Regions from separate parts of the Homo sapiens genome. Here region 2 is linked to region 1. A link means that fine-mapping ties the variant in region 1 to the expression of a gene that starts in the linked region. Tissue or cell type: whole blood. Region 1 holds a variant in brackets; the other region holds the start of a gene. All regions are shown on one strand. Distances are between the middles of the regions.

What was found. PIP is the estimated chance that this variant, and not a neighbour inherited with it, causes the effect.
Region 2: MEF2A starts here. The variant in region 1 is fine-mapped to the expression of MEF2A in whole blood (INTERVAL, PIP above 0.99).

Annotation. Positions count from the first base shown.
Region 1 is chr15:99,713,017-99,715,774 of GRCh38, forward strand. MEF2A (myocyte enhancer factor 2A) reads left to right here. Exons shown (of 12, transcript NM_001319206.4): 12 at 1-2,758. It also overlaps a transcript of LYSMD4 not described here. Among named protein-coding and RNA genes, the nearest start is that of LYSMD4, 19 kb to the right of the region's middle. The variant TGTTAA/T (reference allele first, on the strand shown) is at 1,176.
Region 2 is chr15:99,564,513-99,567,270 of GRCh38, forward strand. It overlaps MEF2A (myocyte enhancer factor 2A), which reads left to right and starts at 1,472. Exons shown (of 12, transcript NM_001319206.4): 1 at 1,472-1,592. RefSeq lists silencers at 643-1,082, 1,923-1,972 and enhancers at 794-1,769, 1,770-2,743.

The DNA of each region.
Region 1 (2,758 bases):
CTGTAGGCACAGACAAGTCTGGCACTTCCTTGGACTACTTGTTTCGTAAAGATAACCAGTTTTTGCAGAGAAACGTGTACCCATATATAATTCTCCCACACTAGCTTGCAGAAACCTAGAGGGCCCCCTACTTGTTTTATTTAACTGTGCAGTGACTGTAGTTACTTAAGAGAAAATGCTTTGTAGAACAGAGCAGTAGAAAAGCAGGAACCAAGAAAGCAATACTGTACATAAAATGTCATTTATATTTTCCAACCTGGCATGGGTGTCTGTTGCAAAGGGGTGCATGGGAAAGGGCTGTTGATATTAAAAACAAACAAAACAAAAAAGCCCCACACATAACTGTTTTGCACGTGCAAAAATGTATTGGGTCAAGAAGTGATCTTTAGCTAATAAAGAAAGAGAATAGAAAACACGCATGAGATATTCAGAAAATACTAGCCTAGAAATATAGAGCATTAACAAAGTAAAATTAATATATTAAGTTATAATTGGAATATGTCAGAAGTTTCTTTTTACATTCATATCTTAAAAATTAAAGAAACTGATTTTAGCTCATGTATATTTTATATGAAAGAAAACACCCTTATGAATTGATGACTATATATAAAATTATATTCACTACTTTTGAACACATTCTGCTATGAATTATTTATATAAGCCAAAGCTATATGTTGTAACTTTTTTTTAGAGAATAGCTTTATCTTGGTTTAACTCTTTAGTTTTATTTTAAGAGGGGAAAACAAAAATATCTTGCAAGCAGAACCTTGGAAAAAAAAAGCCATGAACACTTATTCTAAATGTAAATTAAAAGTTGAGCCAAACTCTTTGTGTATATAGCATCTTAAATATATTATCACCTTTGATGTAAGTACCTATGTATTGTATGGTCACCAGATTAAAAAGTATATTTTTGTGGATTGCCGCCAATCTGGGGGGAAAAGGCGAGGTCCTTTATTAAGTATTCACTGTTTAATATTTACTATTTTGTTAAATATACTGTACTTTGGATTTTAATTATTAGCCCAGTTTTTTCAGAGGATTGTATAAAGGGGTTTCTCCCCTCACTGGTGGTGAATGTGTGATGTTACATTGTAATCTTTGTGCTGTATGGGTTGAGCATCATTATATATTTTGTATGTGTACATAAATAGCAAAGTGGCAAAAAAAATTGG[TGTTAA/T]GTTCATCCTGCATAAGTATAAAATGTGTTGTAACAGATTTTGTAAGGCATTATTTAAAACTTGCCTTTTGTGAGGAAAAAATGTAGTAGAAAAAGCTGACCTAATTTAATTAATATTAGAGAAAATGGCAAAATAGTAGATGAGCACAAAGGTTTTATAAGTGGTAAATGATTAGGGGAAAATAATCATGGGGAAAGGGATCTTTTTTCCTTGACCCTCTGAAAACAGAACGATGCAGCTGGTTACAAAATCCTACCGTTATCAGCTCTTCTGCACATTGCAGTGATGCTTTGGTATGCGGGGAGAAACACTCTTAGGGTGCTGGTCCTTGGCATGACTCTTGCCATTCTAATTGGAATTAGTGCCACCCTCAGCTTGGATTTTGAACAAGGCCTTATTCTTTCAGGAAGACAACTAATGGATGATAGCAAGTTCATCCACTTACTGGGCTTGTGCCATGAGCAAAATTCAAAGTCCTGTATATCTTTCATTGTAGATTTTTAAATACTCCTTTTCCTAAAAAACTCAAGGGTTTAAAAATTGCTATTTTATATTTTAAATGATATTGAGCAGCTACCTACAATTTCTATGTACATTTTGTTCCCCCCCCCCCACCCCCCCCCCAAATTACGTTCCTTTTGACATTTTCCTCATCTGCTGTTTGTGACAAGTCATCAGCCAGATTTCCTGACTGACACATAGGTATGATCAGTGCAGGAGAGACCTGCGCACCACAGGCTGCAAACTGGAGGTTCTGTTCTCATGGCAGTTTGGGCAGTAACTTTTGAGAGAGGCCAAAAAAAGGAGGATGACATGCTGTCTCCTCTCTTCAGTATAGACATTAGGCTCTTATTCAGAAAGGATTTTTCTTTAAAAATGTACTTACTTTACTGAACTACTTACAGGCACATTTCTTCATAAGGCCACACCTAATCCAAACAAGACAGTCTCCCAACACTGAAGTTCCAAAATAATCCTTACCACTTTGTAAACCATTTATAGCTTTGAAAGTGTTAAGTGATTCCTTCGTTATTATTTATGCATGTTCATGAACTTCTGCTGTACATTGGAATAGGAGTTAACACATTCACATTTACTGTCTATTTTCTTGTGTGCCTTATGAGATGGCTTTTCTGACTGTATCTCAATAGTCTTTCTTTCTATGCAGGTTTATAATCAGTACAACTACTGTTTTCTAAAATACTACTACTCAAGGCTCGGAGTTTGTATTTAAATTACACTGACCAAGTAACAATGTATTCCATTTCAGGAACTGAATATTTGACTGTTAACCTTTTTCCCATACGTCCAGTGTGGCATGGAGCATATGGACTTGACAGACATCTCTCACCCAGACGCCCACGTGTGAACACACCCACATCCACATCTCTGGGTGGAAACCAGCCTAGAGAGGGGACGACGCTAATGGTGTTGCTTTAGAACCGTCTTTTCTTACCCTTTTAGACTCGTGTTTTGTATGAGACACCATTGCAAGAAAATTTTATCCCTCCAGAAGTATTTTATTACTAAAGAACAAAAGCAAAAAAAGCTTAAATTGCACTGGTTAAAGTACAGTT
Region 2 (2,758 bases), 150 kb before region 1:
CTGCTCACCCACCCCAACCACTTTGTTTTAAGTGCTGCGGGATTGAATTTCTCATCTTCAAATGCAAACAACCATTTGGCTTCGTGTCCATTACACAGGCACCTCTGGGGGCACATGCAGGCACTGTGGCCCCGAAAAACTCTTCAGAGGTGAGCGGCTTTCAGGATGAGAGGGCCAACAATGGCTCATCTCCTAAAGACCTCGATAAACATAATCAGTAGCCCCAGAAAACACAACAGCTGTCCCAAGCCTATCCCCTTTGCACCTATCTCAGAAAAGGCAACATGCAGAGTGGTCAGGAGTTCAAGTCCTCAGGGCCCTACTCTGAAGCTGTGACCCTGACAGGTCACTTTAGCGCTCAGCTTCCCTTTCCTCATCTGTAAAATGGGAATAGAAACTGAATCTGCTTCATGGGGCCTTGTAAGTATTACATAAGCTGTCATATGCAAAATGTCCATCACATAGTTCACCGCCCCAGGCATCCTAGAAACTATTAAGTCACGATAAGGAGGTTGCTACTGTCCTGGGACCTGGGGAGCTCGGCTGTCCAGTCCGAAAGGGCCTTCTCGCCCTCGAGACCCCTTCAAGTCCCTTTCTCTCCGGGCCCGGGTCCCAGAGTCCCCTTGTGCTTGCTCCTGAGGGTGACCTGCCCGTGCCCCGGGGCGAGCACAGGTGCGGCCCTGGCCACAATGCGGGCGTGGCGAGCCGACACCCGGGGAGGCCAAGGGCGCCTCGAGGGAGGGAGGGAGGAGGCTGACCCGGGCGTCCCGAAGGACCCGCCCGGCCCCGGACTCCGGGCGGCAGCCGGCCTCGCGCCCCGCCCCCGCCCCGGGAGCCCCGCCCAGTCCCGTCGCGCCGCGCCGCCCCACCGCCCGGGTTGGCTGCCCTGGAGGCCACGCGCGGCGATTTGCCACGCGCCGCGTCACCGGGCCGCTCCCGGCCTGGGCTCCCGGGGGCTGGTCAGGGAGGTGGCGGCGGCTGAGCGGCGGAGCGGGGGCGGCAGGGCGCGACGCCGCCGGGCCGCCCCGCCCTGGGAGGCGCCCGGGCCCTCATCAAGTGACCAGTATCCCTTCCAGGGGAACACGGTCCTTCAGAGGAAAGCGAGCTCCAACCCGCGGCCCCGGCGCCAAGCCGCCGTCATCTTCTTCCTGTGCCAGGTGATCGTCTCCTCACCCACCCGGAAAAACATAGTCCGCCCCCACGTCCTTGTGGAATAGCGCCCGCTTCCAAGCACCGTGACTCTCTTTGCCCTACCCTTGTCTTTCCCATTCCAATTACTCTAGAACCCACCGAGAGGATAATTCAGTCCTGAAAAGAAACTGATGGGGAGAAGCGAGGAAGGGAACCCAGGAGGGAGGGGAGGCAGGGCTGCGGAGGGACACCGAGGCGGCGGAGGTAGTGCGCACGCGCAGCACAGAACGAGTTCCGGTCTGGCCGAGGCTTGTCTCCTAAAAATAGCCCCGGTGTGGGGATCCGTGCGCGGATGTCCCGGCGAGTCCCGGGCTGAAAGAGGCGGCTCCGGGCGGCGCGAAGCGCTGGTGGCGGGCCCGGGCTGCGGCGTGTGCGCGCCCGCCAGCTGCTCCGGAGATACGGTGAGGGCCGCGGGCAGCGGGGCTCAGTCCGCGACGCCGGTAGTGCTGGAGGGGGGCGGCGTCTCGCTTAGGGGACCGAGTAGGGGTTGGGGTGGAGGTGCTGGGGCGGGGGACGGCGCGGCCGAGAGGGTCGCCCGGGGGGCTCCGGGGACCCCTGGACGAGGCCGTGTCCGGCTTGGAGGGGGCCAGGGTCGCGTTCGCGCATTGGCGGGGCGGGTAGGGTGCTGGGAGGCGGGTAGGGTGCTGGGAGGCGGCGAGGGGTGGTCGGGTCGGGGTCGGCGCTGAGGAGCTAGGCGCCCGGGGAGGTGGGGGCGGGGTGCCCTGAGGGCGGGCCGGTGGGGCTGGATGGGGCTCGGCTGGGCGGGCCGAGGGGAGCTCAGTCGCGCGGGCTGGTGGCGAGCAGCCTCCCCGGGCGCGCACCCCTTGGGGCCGGGGGGCGGTGGTGGACGTCGCCTCCTTGAAAGTTGAAGGAGTTCTCGGGAGACCCCGGAGAAGGTGCGCTCTGAGGGCCCTTTCCTTCCCCTTTTCCCTCCAAGCCCGGGGGTCTCCCCGAAGGGATTAGCCCCAAGTGCGGGGGGCCTTCTGCCCTGTTGGACTTGAAGAAGTTCCCCCACTTCTGCTTTGGGAGAAGATTGGTCTAACGGGGTGGAACGCTTAGGTACGAATTCTGTGAGTGTGTAGATGTCAGTGGCGGGGTCGGTGTTTGGGGCGGACACCTGCGGTTGCGGACGCCCGATCGTGCGGGGAGACGTCGCGGGGACAGAGGGGCTGCACAGGGAACCGCTGGCTGAACCCCTGCCATCCGGCTAGATCCCAGCTCGCAGAAAATATTTTTTGTGTTAGAAACTTTGCTTTTTGGCTCGATTTCATGCCTTTGAGCTGTGAGGGTTAAAGTAAGTGAGATAGTGCAAACAAGTTTGGAAAAGGTGAGCAATCCTGAATAAGAAAACAGTTTTTCTTTAAAAGTGTAACTATAGAATTGTTGCTCACATCCGAAATAGATTCCGGAGCTGTGAAGCGAGCCTCCTGTTATGGTCCAGCAGGGAACCGTGTGTAGCTTGAATATAACATAGTGTTAACCTGCGTTTTAGTTTACAGTGAGATTGGGATTCCAATAAATGCCCTATTAGAAAGGCCTGCTGTGATGTGTTAACAATAGCATATGT